3 separate regions of the Homo sapiens genome follow, and regions 2 and 3 are each linked to region 1. The links come from fine-mapping of genetic effects on gene expression. A gene starts in region 1. Each other region holds a variant in brackets. All regions are shown on one strand. Distances are from middle to middle.

Region 1 (5,000 bases):
AAAACCAGGCGCTTCAAACTCCACCCCTCTGCTGACTTGAAGCAGTGTGAGTCCGCCTTTCCAAGGCGGTTAGTTTTGTGGTGACGCTAAGAGAGAGTTAATTTGCCCCCTGCTCTGCCTGGAAGGAATGTTCCTGTTGCAATAAGCTCTAAAAGTGGAAGCTTTAAGATAATATGGAATAGGGAGCAATAGAAACTTGTGAGGTATGGCAGCCAGACCTACTCTTAAGATTCGATCACAGTGCTGAATAAAGGGGAAAGAATGTTGTTAAATCTGTTTCCCCCTGTGGTGCTTCTCCCTGCTAGCTTTACTCTTCCATTTCAACCCTCAAGTGAGCTTTCCAGAATCCGTTTCCAATTTAACTCATTGTCTCATGTACTAGATCCCAAAAAAGTGAGAGAACTAAGTTTCAGTGCAAATTAAACTGGATCACTTGTAACAGAATGATTTAGATTGCCTATATGTTTCTCAAGAGCAAAGCCAAGCATTTCCTCCCTCCTGCTATACAAACAGTGACAGAGTTCAGAAGCCCTCCAGCACTAAGCTAAAAAATACCTGGGAGAAACTGGGGTTTAGTTGCTGTTGGCATTTAAGCTGTTTGCTAAAAGCAGCCATCTTGGTGAAAGATGATGTCATTTGGAACACTTGGTGTTTTCGAGTTTATTCTGAGGTGCCAGTTTCCAAGAGCCATTGAATCACCGTTTAATCATGAGATCAAATTTAGGTTTAAAGATAATGAGGGAGTGGGAATAAGAATCATTCTTCTTTCTTCCTAACACTTTAGAAATCTTTCAGAAAGTTCAACCCAACAGAAAAAAAAATTACACTTTTTTTTCTATTTTCTATTACCATGTGTTTGTTGTAATGTTAACTAAGCGTGGGTAATAAAACTAGTCTGGTCAGTTTCACTTTCCAATTTTTATACATAAGTGAAAGCTGTTTTGTGTCAACAGGGCAAAGTGTTTAGAATCATCTCACCTGCTGGGCCAATTTCCTGCAAGCCTTTCTTTGGGAAGAGGAAGGGGGAATAAAAGTTTTTGATTTTTAATTTCTTAAACTGCAAAGCTAGAACCATGAATTAGACCGCATTACAGTAATTACTGTTTTATTTTTACATGCTAAAGTTTTCTAGGAGTGAGCAAGAGGATAGCAAAGACGGGTGATGTTGCACTCCCACTCAATCATTACTATTTGTATAGCATAATGTTATGTCCGCAGTTACTTTGGAAAATTGGCACTTAAAGAGGTGTTTCAATCTTCTACTAAAAGTGTTTCGCCTTCCTTTTTTTTTTTCTTCATTAGGTAAATGTTACTGTCTTAATCCTACTACGAGACATGTGCTGGAAATGTTTGCAAAATGCAAAGAGAAAAAGAAAAAAACAGTTGCACCTTGTTTAAACAATTGAGCGCAGTGTGGTTTATGAGGTTATTAAAGGAGATGTGTGTCTCTCCTGCAAATTCTTACTTAACAAGGTTAACCTGTGGCTGCTGTTGTTTCATCCTCCTCGGCCTCTTGTAGAGGAACTTTGTTCTCTTAGGTTTATCCAAGCCTTCCTAGTCAAAAACACCTTGCTTTTGAGAATATAAAACTGCGTGTATGTGTGAAACAGATAGAGGGAGACACGCGCACACACAGTCGGCGGAAGATGGGGCCACAACACGGTAGAGGATGGGTGCCGGAGCCCGGCTGACCTTTCCACGTGTCCCCGGCACCTGCGAGGCTGGTGGGGCATCAGGTTTCCTTTTTCTCGGGGCGGGCGCGAGCCCGGAAGAGGCTGGGCGGCCGTGGGCTTAGATCAGGGGGCTCGGAGGCCCTCCCTTGGAACACGTGTGGCTGGCGAGCTGGTGGTGCGGGGGCAGTCCTTGGCTTTCCCGCACCCGCAGTGCCTGCGCGTTCCCAGCCCGCCCGTGGTCACCAGACGGCGGCGGGCGGGTCCCGGAGCTTTCAGCCAGCTTTGCTGGGCGGCCTAGGGAGCGCGCCCAGCCCGGCTGGAGCGAGCCCCAGTGCAATACTGCCCAAGCCCGGGCGGGGTCTCTGTTCTCTGGCAGAGGAGGTCCCTTGGCAGCGGGAAGCGCCCTCTCTTTCTCTCGCCGCCGCTCCGAGTCTGCGCCCTGGTGCCAGGCGCTCAGCTCGGCGCTCCCCTGTGCTCGCCCGGCGCCCACTCATTCGCAGCCCGGCCTTCGTCGCCGCCGCCTCCCTGCTGCTCCTCCTCCTTTCCCCAGCCCGCCGCGGCCATGGCGGACAGCGCCAGCGAGAGCGACACGGACGGGGCGGGGGGCAACAGCAGCAGCTCGGCCGCCATGCAGTCGTCCTGCTCGTCGACCTCGGGCGGCGGCGGTGGCGGCGGGGGAGGCGGCGGCGGTGGGAAGTCGGGGGGCATTGTCATCTCGCCGTTCCGCCTGGAGGAGCTCACCAACCGCCTGGCCTCGCTGCAGCAAGAGAACAAGGTGCTGAAGATAGAGCTGGAGACCTACAAACTGAAGTGCAAGGCACTGCAGGAGGAGAACCGCGACCTGCGCAAAGCCAGCGTGACCATCGTGAGTGCCCCCCGGGGACGCGCCGCAGCGCCGACCTCCGCCCGCCCCGGGAGGGGCTGCACCCGAATCCAGCCACCCCCCAAGTCTTCCCCAGATTCCCGGGGACCCTCTGAGAGCACACTCCCTGCGGGGACCTGCTGGCTTCCGGGAGGAGAGGGAGGTATCCCTTCGGGGCCACGCGGGTCTGTCCTCCTCGGGGGTCTGAGGACCCTTGCGCGGTGCGGGGGAAGGCTACTGTGGCAACCATTCATGGTCCCTTTTAGCCTCTGGAGAGGAGGCCCCTCCGGGGCTGGGCTGGAGGCTGGCGGCGTGGCTGGGGGGCGGGGTAGGACTTTTTTCAGCCCTAGCATGTTTGAGGGGTGCGTCCAGAATCTGGGGAACCCCAGTCCTGGAAGAGGGAGGAAGCTGGGATCTCTTACTGGGTCCTGGCTCGGAGTGTGGGGGTTCGCAGCTGGACTGGGCACTAAGCTGGCATCTGGACTGCGCTAGCTGGATCGCCCGGGGAGGGGGCGGGAGAGAGTGGCCGGGAATCCGGGAAGTGGAGTTTTCTGGCCGGGATCGAGAGGGAAGGGCGGGTACGGCGCTAATGCTCCCACCTCTGTTGGAAGCTCTTTGCTTTGGGTTGGGAGGGTGGACGGTTTACAGCGAGGAGAGTGCAGCATCCACGCCTGGACAGGGCTGGGGCCGAAACCAGGGGAAGGGTAGTGACTGTGACTCCCTGGCTGAGCCAGAGGTACGTGTGTTTGCTTCATTCGTGGAGTGGTTAGAAGTATCTTGCTTCTGAGTCTAGATACTGGAGAACAGGCCATCTGTTCTGTTTCTACCTGTCCCCTGGAGGCTGCCCAGAAACGGGTAAGCTTGGGTCTGTAGGTCTCTCTCCTGGTGTGGCAGGCGTTTAGAAAGGCCCCTATAGCAGTGATGAGGCGAAACGTAACTAGAAAAAGTACACTGTGTACTCTCACCTATCATCCCTGCCAGCTCACCACATCATTAACATGAAGGATCCCCACACAGACAACTGTATTCAAATCAAAAGTTCCCCAGCCAGAAGCAGAGAAGATGATGTCAAGAAATCAAGGGGGATAAATGGCCATAGCTGCTGCAAAATAGCGGATTAGGCTGAACTTTGAAATGAAGAAAAAGGGATGAATTTGGGGATAGAGGGTCACACCTTGGAAATGGAGCAAGTTTAGGATGCCCCTTGTGCCAGGAAATGCCTTCGGTGGAGGAGGCTGTGTATATGTGTGCGCACGCGTGTGTACACCCCCAGTGCTGGCTCATACATGAGAACTAGATGGCATTCTTAATTTGTGTAGAAAGCAAGTTGCAAGTTAAGTGTGATCAGTAGCCTAAATAGCAGTTGATTGTAAAAAGAAACTTTTCATGCTCAAATCCAATTTTGGAGAATGGAATTGGAGCAACTTTCATGTGAGATGGTAAAGTTCTTGAAGTGCCCTTTTGGTAGGAAGGTGGGGGGCGGGGAATTTGCAGAGGCAGCCACTTCCAAGCCTCCTATGCAGCTTTCTTCGCTGACAGAGATGTCTTTGCTGAGTGGGGGTTAAGAAGAGAGGGAAGTTGTTGGAGGCAGTTTAAGGTTTGAGTTAGTAAATGAGAGGGTTAGTCTCTTGGAGACTGTGAGCCATGGAAAGTAGTAAGACTTGCATGAAGCAAAATAGCCTTTTGCATGCAGTGGGCAATTCAGGCTGGTTTTGTTTGGGAGGGAGGAATGAGGGATGCAGAGACTATGAAAGGGTTATCTGTTTGACACTTAGACCGTATTATAACTAGGTTTGTAAATTGTGCTTAAACATGTTGGCTTTGCAGGAACAAATGTGTTCATTCCCGGTGTTTAAGATCAGAGGCCTTCTGAGTACTTGGCTAGAAGAGCGTATAAGGTGGTGGCTTGCTTTCTTAGCACTTACCCTTAACTACACTGACATCCAACCGAATATACTTTGTGAAATGTCGTGTGGTGTTAATGAGTAAAGTTAACATTGTTTTAGATGACACTGCACAAGTACCAGAAGCCTCTCAGTTCTTCTTTAATTTCTGACTAATATATTCAGGGAGACACATAAAAAAGTGCTTGTGGTTCGCCTGGTTTCCTAATACTTGGCAGTTGTTACTAAGGAGCTGAATGATAAATGCAGAAAACAGATTCCTTCAAGATTTTGCAGGTTTTGTTAACTGACCTAGGATCCAGATTCTGTGGTGGTACGTTTGACCTCTCAGGTATGTAATGCGGGAGGAGAAATTTATGTGACTCCATGAAATGGGCCTGTGAATGTAGAGTCCATTGAACAACACTTAAGTAGTTTATGTCAAGGTTAAGCTGTACAATCCCTGACATCGCTGACTTAAGCATTACCCTTGCTAGTGGCAGGCTAGGAAGTTTCTGATAATTAAGTGAAGGCCTTGTTAGATTTTTCACTATTTTAGTTAATTTGAAGGGAAGATGGTAC
Region 2 (6,351 bases), 35 kb after region 1:
CATTCAGAGAACCCAAGATAATTTCCTTATTTTAAAGTCAGTTGATGGGCAACCTTAATTCTATCTGTTCCCTTAATTCCCCTTTGCATGTAAGTAACATTTTCATAGGTTCTGGGGATTCAAATGTAGACAGCTTGAGGCAAAGTTTGCAGGAGGGAGCATTCTGCCTTCACTGGCAGAATAGGAGTATTGTTAGTGAATTGGTTGTTTGCATTGGTATGGATGGCATTTCTGTGAATATCTTTGTATATTGATCTCTGTATATCTTTGGTTAATCCATGAACCACCTTTCTGTAAACGGAGGATTTCAATGTGATAATTTTAATATGTTTGATAAAAATGATAAAATTACAGAAACTCTAGTCTTGGTTGGATAGGAGAACAAAAGGCAAGTTTAGTGCCAAAGAAAACATTTTAGAACTGGGAGAAGATCAATTTGTGCCTTTGTTACATTCCTGTTAGAGTGTAAGGTCCTGTCTCATTATAGTTTTATTATATTCCCTGTGCCTTCTGGCATATGGAATCTATGTAGGGGTGTGTGCGTGTGTGTGTGTGTGTGTGTGTGTGTTTGCTAGGTAAATGTGTAAGGAAATGAATGTCTACGCTTCGGACATGCTTCACCATTCTTTCACTTCGTTTTCTTTCAGTATTAGATGTCATAGATCTTCACTGACCATGGTTGATTTTGCAGCATTTGGGATTTTGACAGCTGTATTGTGTCTAAATGTGCTACTGCCTCAACATCATAGGAATGGGGAACATTCATTCTCATATAGAAGATTTAAGATGTACTTGGATTGTTTTAACTATTCTGTTTTGATAATTTTAAAAGCTACATATGTGTTCTCTGTCCTTCTTTTTTTTTAAAAATTAGCAGTCTATTACAAAATCATCACAAATTTAGGTAAATACCATTGTCAGAAACCAAGATTGAAAAACCTGCATTTACTTTGAAATATTCAGAATAAAGTGGCATATTAAAATACTAAATATTAAAATATAGCTCCACAGTCTCTTATCCCATGAGGCCAGATATGTTTTAGAATTTAGGTTTTTTTGGTGGTGGGAGTTGGGTCTGTTTGTTTCCCAAGGCTGTTGTAACAATGTTTCACAGACTGAGTGGCATAAAACAATAGAAATTAATTTTCTCACAGTTCTGGAGGGGCCAGAAGTCCAAAATCAAGGTGTTGGTAAGGGTTGTTCTCCCTTGGAAACCTCTGGCCGGGGAAGATCCTTCTGTGATTCTTCTAGTTTCTAGTATCTCCAGGCGTTCCTTGGCTTGCAGCTGCAGCACTTCAGTTCCTGCCTCTGAAGTCATGTGGTCATCTTCTCCTTGTATGTTTCTGTCTGTATTTTCCCTTCTTATAAGGACAGCAGTCGTATTGGATTGGGGCCCACTCCAGTGATCTCATCTTAGCTTGATTACATCTGCAAAGAACCTATTTCCAAATAAGGTCACATTCACAAGTATGTGGGGTTAGGAATTGAACATATCTTTTTCAAGGACACAGTCCATCCCATAAAAGGGAGTGGAGCTATGGAAAGGTACTGAGCACCTACCACGTATACTGTAGCACCGCCAGAGGATTGAAACAGCAGACACATCAAACCACCTCAGCAAAACATGTGAACAGGCATGCTAAGTTTGATGATAAAGCTGCAAAGAGCCTCATGTCAATTCAGATCAGGCTTGCCACCAAGTGAACGCAGTTGTTTGGTTGCTTGCCAAATGTAGCTTTCGGTTTTCAGTCTTCTGGGTTTTGGAATTGTGTTTAAAGGATCGAGGACCTGTGCTAGATTTTCACCTTAATTCCTAATGACAGCTTAGCAATATTTCTTAGAAGTTCTAGCAGGGAAGAGTTACTGCTTATGCACTTTCTAATGTTGTTACCTTCCCCCACCCCCCCATCTGGAAAGTTATCCTCTTTGACTGGATGCAGCCCCAGGTATCAAGGTGGTGAGATGTAGTTTGACCATGAAATCCTTGTGTCCAACTAGAATAGAAACTTGATGCTGAAAGTTAACCCCTTGCTAGAGGTTAAACCTTCCGTCCCTCTTTACTCACTGAAAACTAGAAAATGTTCATACATCAATAACCTCCAACTCACAAAGCCAGCCTTATAGTTAAAGCAGTGTGTCTTTTACTTCTTCGGAGGAATTGGCTTCCATAGAAAGTCAGTTCAGAAGCCCAACCCCTGGACACCTTCGCACGAGCAAGGAGACAAGGAACAGGATGTAAATTGGCTACCATTTTCTTACCTGCAACAGCACAGGAAACAGACACAGCTTTGTAGCTGCAAATGTAGGCAGCTGTTTGCTTAAGTCTCCGTATCTTAACTGAATACTGATACCCAAGGTTGGGGAATCTGCTGGAAGAAACATCCAGCTAGCACAGCCTCAGACTGTTCAAGCATGTTCATTGTAACGATTCTTCAAAGGGCAGAAGCATTGGAAACAACTGGAAGGAATGTCAGGCAGTAGAGAGATGGTTTTGGCACATCAGTGAGATAGGTTGTTTACAACATCAAAAATTATTGGAGGAACATTTAATCATAGAGATAGTTAAAATCTAGTAAGTGGAGTGAGGATACAGTGTGCGTGTAATGTGAACCAATTTTGTAAAATGTGTAAGCACAGAGGTTACAAGGGATGGATAACATTAGCAGTGCTTTTAATAATTGGCTCCTTATTTTCTTTATACTTGAGAATTTTCTAGTTTCCTGTAATCCATTTCCCTTCTTCCTCCCTTTAAGTCCCTTGTTTGAGGAGCCTTTTACTTTTGGAGGAGAACTTGTATCCTTATATTTAATCAGAGTGCTATTTTTTTTTCTTTTGCCAATTAGCAACTGAATTTGGGGAATACTTAGTGGGAATTTTTGTTCAAAGCAGCGTGGATCCCCTGCCCCCTCACAAGGCAGGATGTGTGCTGTGCCATAAAGGACTTCATATTATCTCCCATTTTACAGATGGGGAAATGTAGGCAGGCTGAAGAAAGAAAGTAGCTTGCCAAGGTTAATTAAGAGTTAACAGCAAAACCAGGACGAGGGCTAAGGTCTCCTGATTAGCTAGCGCTGTATCTTTTTATCTGCTCCAGGCTCTCCAACCAAACTGTTCAATGGAACCTTGGGGCCCCATCCCTCAGAGCTGACCCAGTTTGTCAGGGCAAGGGTCTGGGCATCAGTAGTGCATCAACTTTTTTTTTTTTTTTTTTTTTTTTTAATGAGTATTAGGTGATGCCAGTGAAATCTTGATGTTGAGCTTTGGGAATCCATTGCCTACAAAGCAGTCCCTCCGAGATTTGTGTGTACGTGTATACACATGTAAACACAAGGTGAATGTTTATTTTTACGTACTTGAGTGCTTCGTATATACAAGGCGGTGTTCTTAGCTCTGCGAATGTGGTGTGACAGATTAGCCTCTTTAACAACTCCAGAGGCACTGTTAACATTTCTTAGACACAGTTCTATTAATTTTTAAAATATTTACAATTATATACATAATACTT[A/G]TACATGTTTATATAATATAAACTCTCCTCATGTATAATACATGAAAGCATTTTATTTATATATTCTTGTTAAATAAAACTTCACTCATGGGATCATAATGTGCATAGTCTTTAGCATTTTGCCTCTCCAATTTACTGTATCTCAGGCGAGCTTTTCATTTCTAAACATAGATCTGACTGACTCTCCTCTCATACTGATGAGTTTTCATTTCAGGAATTGTGTATGGCAGAGGCTAAACTGCTGATGGGGAGACCCCCAAATACAGCTGCTCAGTTCATGGTGCTCTCATTTAATAGTCCCGGGCTGGTGGTTGACTCCTCCATGAGGTTGTTCACTGGGGTCTTCCTATTTCATAGCTGTACCATCTTGCGGGATGTTAGCCTTGCCATTGTGGTGGGACCTGCCTTATAACTTCTAGTTCGATTCCAGCCTGTGAAAAGTGGGAAGCAGCATGGATAACTGCTTCTTTTTAAAAGCTATGACTCCAAAGTTGCATACCACTTCCATCCATCTCCTGTTTGTCAGAAATTAGCCCCATAGCCCCACCTACCTGTCCAGGAGTCTGGGATATGTAATCTAGCTGGGTGGTCCTCTAGATTGTAGGAGAGTCCTCTTTTCAAAAAGAGGATGAAGAAAGTTAATGCTGGGGGTCACTCACGTACCATCCACTGCAGCTCTATTCATGATCCAACAGTGGTGACAGGATGGAAGAGTTAGAGCTACCAAGTATAGTGCTGTGTTTTGGTATCAGTGGCATCTGTGCAAGTGGATGTGGGGGTGTGAAAAGTGGTGATGGATCTGGAACTACTAGACTCTGAGCTCCTCCAAGAGCAGTGATAGTACCTTATTTTTTCTGTCATGAGAACTTGACTCAGTGCTTTGAACTTCAGTTAACCAGCAGAGGCGGGTGGGGAGAAAAGGTTGAGTTTAAGAGAAGCCTTTTTCCACGTCTCAATGAGTTGCCCATATGTTAACCAGTATCGGAGTACTTGCCATATGCCAGGCACAATTGTAGGTTCTGAAGTCACCAGTGGCCCTGATTGTGCTCATAAGCCTACATTCTGGTGGGGGTGACAAACAGTAAAAAGATATCTCTGTGGCAGTAGGCAAGATACATCCTCGATGGAAAGAAGGTAGTGTAATGGGGTGGTGAATGGTGGTGAGGGCTCTTTAGGTTTGATGGCTGAGACAGCCTCTTCAGGGGGATCTGAGATGACAGGTAGCCAGCCTGCTATGGGGCAGAGAATCTAGCTAGTACCTGGATACCACAACAGGGATCATGAGTGTGGCATGTGTGGGAACAGATATGCTGGAGTGGCTGGAGTGTCGTGGGTGTCGGGGCAAGAGGCAGGCAGAGGCTGGACCACGGGAGGGCCGGTAGATGATCCAGGGCAAGGAATCACTATTTCTTAGTGTGATGGGAAGCCTTTGGAGGGTTTGAGCAGGGTAACAAAGTGGTCAGTTTTCCATCTCTAAAACTGTGGGTGTGCAGAATGAGCACGGGTTGTATGAGCACAAGAGTGGAAGGATCAGCAGGGCCAGGTAGGCGGCTGTTGTAAGCCTGATGAGGAATGATAGTGGCTGGAGCAAAGGCAATGAGAAGGCCAGAAAGACATTCAAGATTTATTTCCATTAGAAACAGGACTTTCTGATGGGCTAAATAGGCACAAGGGTAGTGAGGGAAAGAAAACCAAGGCTTACTTCTTGCTGGTTTTTTTGTTTGTTTGTTTTTGTTTCTGTTTTTTTTTTTTCTTTTTTCTGTTTTTTTTTTTTTTTTTTTTTTTTTTTTTTGCCTGAGCAAGTCCATGTCTCACTGCTTAGGACAGAGGGGAAGGAATCCAGAGAGGTGTTTGGGGTCGATTATGTTGGAGGTGCCTATATGCTGTCCAGGTGGTGACGACAGGTTGGCAGTTGGTTAAGTCTGGAGATCTGAGGGAGGCTTTTCTGGCTAAGTGCTCTCATGTCCCTCTTAGTAAAGTTGCACTTAACTGGAAGACTTTGGGCTATAGTTTATAGCACTACACTGAGATCATTAGGGCGTGGTAGGGATGAAGTGTGCTCTTTCCTATGGCTCCCATTGGCTTTTGAAAGACAGGTTAAAGGCATTCTTTTTAGATATAGGGTGTGTCAGGAGTCCCCAGGACCACCCTCAGGTTTGGTGATTTGCTAGAAAGACTCAGGACTCAGTATCTAGTAATACTCATGGCTAAGATGTATTAGAACAAAAGGCCGCAAAGCAAAATTGGCATAAGAAAGAGGTGCATGGGACAAAGTCCAGAGGAAACCAAGCATAGCTTCCAAGAGTCCTCTCCCAGTAGAGTCACACAGGATGTGCTTAATTCCCCCAATGTGGCATTGTAACCACACGTGTGAAGTGTCATCTACCAGGGAAGCTCATTGGAGCCGAGGGTTTTTACTGGGGGCTGGCTCTGCTTAGCATGTACCAAAGTTCCAGAATCTCAAAGGAAAGCAGGTGTTCATCATAAACCATATTGTTTGTAACGCTTAGGCACAGTGAGCCATGAAAGAGAAGGGGAGGAAAGCGTGAAGAATAAAGTTAAATTAGAGTTGTCATGCCAAACCCCTATCAACCTCAGTAGGGAGGGCACCAGGTTCAAAAGGCCAAATAAGAGACCTGGAGCCAGCAAATGAGATGTGGGGTTTTATTAGAGGCTTTCATCCAGGGAAGAGTGTCCAGTGGCAGTGAGCTGAATAGAAGAACCACCTTAATCACAGGAACGGTCTAGTGGCGGCGGGCTGGACAACGTATCTGCATGGCCCAGTGGTGGTGGGCTGGGCAGGAAAATCACACGGTCCAGTGGTGGTGGGCTTGGCAGGAAAACAG
Region 3 (7,662 bases), 120 kb after region 1:
AAACCTCCATTTTTGCCTTCGAATGCATATTTAAGAGTTAACAGAATGAAAAAAAAAAGTCTTGTTGGATAATAGTGTTTGACTAGCGTTTTAAGAACTTGAGAGTAAAAGCAACAATAAGATTTTTTCACCTCTTCCTGCTTCCACCCCCAAACTGAGAACATCACTCAATTGTTTGGAAGAAACTGTAGGTCTATATAAATTTTATTTATAATGTATGTGTAATATACATAATCATAATACAGTTCTCAGATGCAGGGAAGAAGTTTGGCATTTAATCATTGAGGCTTTAGGTTTTTGATGTGATCAGACTGGGCCATGTCAAACCCGGAATTTTCACCAACAGTTCACTCACCCTCCTGGTACATTGCCATTCCAAGGAATTCTGAGAGTAGGCAAACAAATTTTGCCTTCATGGTACAGTTCTCAGTTTTTCTTATAGGAGAAATATGGTATATGTTTATAAGAATCTTTTATGAGATTATAGATTTCAATGCTGTGGATAGTGTCTTGCACCCAAACAAGAAAGTCCATAATGGAATGATCTTCCCTCAGCTTCCTATCGATTTAGTTACCTCTTGAAAGCACAAAAATTAAAACATTGCCATATGTTGAATTTTTAAAAAGCACTTGGAGTGAGCGAACATTTCCTGATAAATGCCTTTTAGAGATAGGTTCTTGATATTCAGACATCTGCAGAAATGTTCTGGTTCCCAAAGTCATTTCACTTCGAAATAAAACACAGCTCCTTCAAACAGCACTTTTTCCACATAAATCTAGTTGCCTCTCCCTGTGGACATTCAGAACTGATAGAACAAACACTACTCTTTTGAATTTGATGGTTCGTGTCCTTTAAAGTGTTTGAGGACCTATGCAGAGCCTGTAACACTTGGGTAGTACCTGCTAGGACAATTTCTTGGCAATTGTCTTACTACTAGGGATCAGTAAGATTTAGATTCTGAGCCCATAATGGCAACAGCCCCCTCACCTATGGGAAGCTGACTTCCCTCAGTCGGGCACTTCTCATGGGGGCTGAACATGGTTCCTGCCATTCTGTTACCCACTCTCCCAGGTGAGCCCTGGATTGGCTCCCAGAAGGCCTTTGTAAAATCAGTAGCCGTCCTGCAGGCAGGTGGGAGCAACAGGGGCTTCAGTAGCTTCATTTTCCTGTCTTGCAGACAGAGACCCTTGGCTACCACTGTGCTGCTAATAGGATAAGTACTCTGTTGCCAGATTACCATGCCTTTTATACAAAACCAAATTAACTTACCTAATACCTGACACCTCTTTGGGCTCTGAACTGCTTTCTCTCATCAAGCATGCTAGCACTCTAGACAGAATTCTAGAAATTTGGCAGATAGTGGAAGCCTTTAATTGAACTTACTCCTTCGTTGACTGAAAGGAGTTTTAAATTCTGAGCTCCTGAGATACTGACTAGCAACCATGGAATGAATGTGTGACCAGAAAGTGGCTTTGACACCAAGTGCTACTGTCCCTTTGTAATTGGCTTCTAACAGAATTCAACCAGAAATAATTGATAATGTGAATTTTTGTTAATTGTTCACTTGTAGGAAAATAGAACATGTATCACCCTTTGTTAGGTAGACATGAACTTTTCCTGCACAAAGCCTTGCTTTTAGAGAATGCCCAATAAGGCAAGAAAAAGCATAGTAACTTGTGCTTTGAGAGCTCAATATTTGTATCTTATCAGTACAGAAGAAATATTTCTGTGTAACTTGATCTTCTGTCTAGTACTTGTCTTATAGGTAACCAACACTGAAAACTTTGTAGTGATGACTACCAAAGAAATACATAGTAAAACAACCTTTTATTTCCAAATTGTTAAAGAGCCAGCCATTGATGCTGCTACATGAGTTCCATGCTCAAGAGCCATTGTAAGAGATTAAGGGGTTTCTAGGTTTTTGGTGATTTTTTGTTTGTTTTTTTCTTTGTTTTTTAGG[G/T]TTTTTTTTTCTTCTTTAATTTTTTGATTAAAACATACACACAGCTGTTAGCATAAAGTCGTGGGGGGCATTTTCTGGAATGCTCAGCAGTTCTGATTAACTGCCAAGCCCAGGTTGCCTCTCATGAGGCAACTGAAAAAATCCTGTGTCTTGATAGCATGGGTGCTGTGTGTGTGCATGTGTGTGTCTGCATTCATGCCTTAACTCGGGTTACTGCACAACTTTAGTTCTTGACTTAGTCTGCACCGTCATCTAGATTGTATTGTACATCTCGGTCTGAACTTCATCCTGGCAAAAACAAAGTTGCAGGCACAACAGTTTAAGAATGCATTCCTCCAGAAGAGTATCTGGTCAGGTTGACCCCTGAGCCTTCTTTGGACTTGATTTGGAACTTAGCCTGGAAAGCGAAAGTGGACTGTCCAACAGAAAGATGTCAACAAGGAAAAGAGGAGAGCCAAGCGCTAGCATGCCTTTTGCCTCTGCATATCTGTGCACACTGTATGTTGTTCATGATAGCTTGTCTACAACTTGACTAGGTTGGAGTTCTGGTAATAGTGGCAATCTTGACATTCTTGGTCAGAGTTTAGAGAGATGTAAGACTTTCAATTAATGTCTTATTTACTCCTTTATGTTGATTAGTCTTTGATACATGTGCTGAATCAGAAACCTAAATAAAGATAATTTTTTAAAATGTACCTCTTGAGCCTTAAACCCTATCTTTTTTCATTTCGGTTTTTGGGAATAAAACATTGTTTCTCTGTTGCTTCTGACAGACATCTAACTTAAATTGTAAACTCTAAAGGCTGCCTTAGAAAGTAAATTTAAACAACTGGGTGCAGTGACACAAGCCTGTAGTCCCAGCTACTCAGGAGTCTGGGGTGGGAGGATCACTTGAGCCTTGAGAGTTCGAGGCTGTAGTGAGCTAGGATTGCGCCATTGCACTCCAGCCTGGGTGTCAAAGGAAGATCCCATCTCCAAAAAAAAATAAGGAATGATGGCACGAAAAGGGCTGGTATAGTTTTGCTTATTTGTTTTTGACGGAGTCTCACTCTGCCACCCAGGCTGGAGTGCAGTGGTGCAATCTTGGCTCACTGCAACCTCCACCTCCTGGGTTCAAGCAATTATCCTGCTTCAGCCTCCCAAGTAGCTGGGACTACAGGTATGTGCCAACACGCCAATACAAGTTAATTTTTGTATTTTTAGTAGAGACGGGGTTTTGCCACATTGACCAGGCCGGTCTCAAACTCCTGACCTCAGGTGATCCACCTGCCTCAGCCTCTTAAAGTGCTGGGATTACAGGCGTGAGCCACCATGCCTGGCTAGTTTTGTTTCTTAATCAGAGTGCTGGCTGCTTGGATGTGTTGAGGTTTTGAAAATTCATGAAACCGTACACTTAACGATTTGTGCACTGCTCTGTATTTGTGTTGTATTTCAGTTTAAAGCAGTAAACCTGAGGTTATGAAAAGGAAAACCATGCCCATTTCCAAAATGTTACATACAAATATTTATGTACAGGATTTGGATGTCACATTTGGGATGTTTCGTGAGCTTTAAAGTTTCAATCCACCTGTTTGGTGTTTTTTTTCTCTACTTTGTTGGAAGCATGGCTTTGGGATCAATTCTAGGTTTGAGTACCAATTATTTTCCTGGGATAGTTACTTAACTTTTCTGGGACTCAAGTTCCTTACCTGTAAAATAAAAATGTTATTTATGTGCCTGGCTAAAATAAGAAAATTGATGGATGGTACAGTATAGTCCTTCACACACAAAATCAGACGTGGACTAGTCTCTTCCACATCCATCCAATGAATGAGTATTTGGGGTAATGTTTTACACATGCTTGGGGGTATATGGTTTGTCAGTTGCATTTTCGTAAGCCCATAGTAGTTAGAGTCCACATTCTGTGGAAGAAATGCACAGTACTCAGTGGGATCCTCTTGGGAGTATAGTTTTCAAGAACCCATTTGTGATGCCGTCGTTTTTTTTTTTTTTTCTTTTTTTTGAGACAGAGTCTTTCTCTGTCACCCAGGCTGGAGTTCGGCTCACTGCAACCTCCCCACCTCCTGCGTTCAAACAATTCTCCTGCCTCAGCCTTCCCAGTAGCTGGGATTACAGGTGCCTGCCACCACGCCCAGCTAATTTTTTGCATTTTTAGTAGAGACGGGGTTTTGCCATCTTGGCCAGGCTGGTCTCGGACTCCTGACCTCTGGTGGTGACCCACCCACCTCGGCCTTCCAAAGTATTGGGATTACAGGCATGATGTGATGCCATCTTATGAGTGCAGACTGTTTAAATCTAGGCTGTTTTCTATATAAAAGTAAATAAACCTTCAGTGAATCTTGACTGACTCTGGCTTAAGCAGGATTCCATTTTAACTTCGTGAAAGCAATGAGTTTTTAATTTGGTTGAAATGACCAAATGACAAAACTCCTCTCTACCCGTGGCAGCTGGATTTTAGTTGTAACTTGGTGAAAATATTAGCCAAGGAATTTCCCAGGACCTCTGGATTCAAGTCTTAACCTTCGTCCTGCCTTAGCCTCAGTTTTCTACTGGTGGAGATAGCTGTTCTTATTTCAGGTCAAATTTGAAGAAAATTATTTAAACAAAGTGCTCTGAAAACAAGTAAGTAAAGATTAAGCTGCATGTGTATTTTATAAAATTTTAATATCTTTTAAAGGCTATGTGTCCACATGGTGCCTCTAAAATTGAAACGGTTGGTCTAGAACATTTTTTGTGTTTATGTAGAACTCTTAAGTAAATCTGAGAGGTCCTTGTTTTAACATGTAGGCTATTTAAATTAAAAACTTGTGGAAATGCAATTCTGTCACTAATATATAATTCAGCTCAAACTTTTAAACATTGTCTTTAGAAAAACAAGAAGTCAGTGCATGGTAAATTATGGTTTGTGTCTGATGCATATGTTGACATGAGGGATTGAATTCCTGTTCCTTAAAGTTTTCTGTCCAGTATCATCCCTGGTTTCATATTGCATTGAGTGCTATTGAGCTGAATATATTTAGATCTTTTTCCAAAGGTCTTATTTTCTGATACTCTACTGATAACTTAGTGCAACTTTCAAGATTACTAATTACCCCAAGAGGAGATCTTAGTAATTAATCTTAAATTTTTCATCTTAAAAACAAAAAAGGGAAAGTCAGACTCAGAAAAACAGATGTTTTTCTCTCAGGGAAACAATGATAGAATTAACAGACAAGGATGTGAAAACAGAGACTTATAAACGTTCTCCATGTGTTCAAGAAGACAGCGAAGTATAAGCATGGTCAGAAAAATTGAAAATAAAACCTAAGTTGATCTTTAAAGATAAAAAATACAATTTCTGAAATTTAAAACAATAAAAACTTGTTTTAAGTCTTTTGTGGATTTATGTTTGTGCTCTTTGAATGTACCTGAGAAACATTAAAAGGCACCCCTGCTGGTCGGGCACTGGCACAGTGGCTCACACCTGTAATCCCAACAATCCTTCCAGCCAAGGCAGGAGGATTGCTTGAAGCCAGGAGTTTGAGACCAGCCTGATCAACATAGTGAGACCCCCATCTCTACCAAAAATTAAAAATTAGCCAGGCATGGTGGTGCATGCCTGTTTTTCTAGCTACTCAGGAGGCTGAGGTGGGAGGATTGCCTGAGCCCAGGAGTTTTAGGCTGCAGTGAACTATGATCATGCCACTGCATTCCAGCCTGGGGAACAGAGTGAGACCCTGTCTCTAAAGAAAAGTTGGGCAATGATAGACTGGATTAAGAAAGTGTGTCACATATACACCATGGAATACTATGCAGCCATAAAAAATGATGAGTTCATGTCCTTTGTAGGAACATGCATGAAGCTGGAAACCATCATTCTCAGCAAACTATCGCAAGGACAAAAAACCAAACACCGCATGTTCTCACTCATAGGTGGGAATTGAACAATGAGAACACATGGACACAGGAAGGGGAACATCACACACCGGGGCCTGTTGTGGGGTGGGGGGAAGGGGGAGGGATAGCATTAGGAGATATACCTAATGTTAAATGATGAGTTAATGGGTGCAGCACACCAACATGGCACATGTATACACACGTAACTAGCCTGCACATTGTGCACATGTACCCTAAAACTTAAAGTATAATAAAAAAATTGGGGTTGTGGTGGGGCAGAGAACTGTTTAAATTCGAGTTAAGCCTGTGATCTACTTTTCTTTCACCAGGGGAGCTTTGCCTGTGTTCTGGTAGACCACTATTGGGAAATTATTAATCCTGGGGACTTACTACCCAAATTCATCACATTAGTGTTGGGCATGAAGCCTCAAGGCTTAAGGTAGCCAGGTGCTGTAGAAAGAGTCCTGTGAGTTCAAGTCTGGTCTAAGTGCAATTTTTAAGCTTCTATTTCCTCATCTATAAAAGAGGAATGAAAATGGTGTCTTTAGGATCAAATGAACATATTAGTGTTAAAACTTTAGAGACTATAAGGTTCTTTTTTTGTATTGTAACTTCACTATTTCCAATATCATTTCATTCATTCTACAAATACTCTTTTTTTTTTTATTATACTTTAAGTTTTAGGGTACATGTGCACAGTGTGCAGGTTAGTTACATATGTATACATGTGCCATGCTGGTGCGCTGCACCCACTAACTCGTCATCTAGCATTAGGTATATCTCCGAATGCTATCCCTCCCCCCTCCCCCCACCCCACTACAGTCCCCAGAGTGTGATATTCCCCTTCCTGTGTCCATGTGATCTCATTGTTCAATTCCTACCTGTGAGTGAGAATATGCGGTGTTTGGTTTTTTGTTCTTGCGATTGTTTACTGAGAATGATGATTTCCAATTTCATCCATGTCCCTACAAAGGACATGAACTCATCATTTTTTATGGCTGCATAGTATTCCATGGTGTATATGTGCCACATTTTCTTAATCCAGTCTATCATTGTTGGACATTTGGGTTGGTTCCAAGTCTTTGCTATTGTGAATAATGCCGCAATAAATATACGTGTGCATGTGTCTTTATAGCAGCGTGATTTATAGTCCTTTGGGTATATACCCAGTAATGGGATGGCTGGGTCAAATGGTATCAAGTGGCCTTCATCCCTGGGAGGCAAGGCGGGTTCAATATATGCAAATCAATAAATGTAATCCAGCATATAAACAGAGCCAAAGACAAAAACCACATGATTATCTCAATAGATGCAGAAGAGGCCTTTGACAAAATTCAACAACTCTTCATCGTAAAAACTCTCAATAAATTAGGTATTGATGGGACGTGTTTCAAAATAATAAGAGCTAGCTATGACAAACCCACAGCCAATATCATACTGAATGGGCAAAAACTGGAAGCATTCCCTTTGAAAACTGGCACAAGACAGGGATGCCCTCTCTCACCACTCCTATTCAACATAGTGTTGGAAGTTCTGGCCAGGGCAATTAGGCAGGAGAAGGAAATAAAGGGTATTCAATTAGGAAAAGAGGAAGTCAAATTGTCCCTGTTTGCAGACGACATGATTGTATATCTAGAAAACCCTATTGTCTCAGCCCAAAATCTCCTTAAGCTGATAAGCAACTTCAGCAAAGTCTCAGGATACAAAATCAATGTACAAAAATCACAAGCATTATTATACACCAACAACAGACAAACAGAGAGCCAAATCATGAGTGAACTCCCATTCACAATTGCTTCAAAGAGAATAAAATACCTAGGAATCC

Which allele goes with the higher level. Positions count from the first base shown, and alleles are read on the strand shown. Sizes are in standard deviations (SD) of each study's normalised expression. Not every link is listed here.
For the expression in tibial artery of the gene that starts at base 2,104 in region 1, allele G in region 2 goes with a higher level than allele A (small effect, 0.24 SD a copy in GTEx).

The links. PIP is the estimated chance that this variant, and not a neighbour inherited with it, causes the effect.
Region 2: its variant is fine-mapped to the expression of CCDC6 in tibial artery (GTEx, PIP 0.97).
Region 3: its variant is fine-mapped to the expression of CCDC6 in blood mononuclear cells (TOPMed, PIP above 0.99).

The regions. Positions count from the first base shown.
Region 1 is chr10:59,903,660-59,908,659 of GRCh38, reverse strand. CCDC6 (coiled-coil domain containing 6) reads left to right here and starts at 2,104. Exons shown (of 9, transcript NM_005436.5): 1 at 2,104-2,538. The coding sequence starts at 2,236. RefSeq lists enhancers at 1-469, 3,162-3,391 and silencers at 1,515-1,809, 1,992-2,331, 2,362-2,641.
Region 2 is chr10:59,868,336-59,874,686 of GRCh38, reverse strand. The region is part of intron 1 of CCDC6 (coiled-coil domain containing 6); the gene reads left to right. Among named protein-coding and RNA genes, the nearest start is that of CCDC6, 35 kb to the left of the region's middle. RefSeq lists an enhancer at 1,402-1,696. The variant A/G (reference allele first, on the strand shown) is at 3,506.
Region 3 is chr10:59,783,757-59,791,418 of GRCh38, reverse strand. CCDC6 (coiled-coil domain containing 6) reads left to right here. Exons shown (of 9, transcript NM_005436.5): 9 at 1-2,672. Among named protein-coding and RNA genes, the nearest start is that of MRLN, 34 kb to the right of the region's middle. RefSeq lists an enhancer at 986-1,487. The variant G/T (reference allele first, on the strand shown) is at 1,962.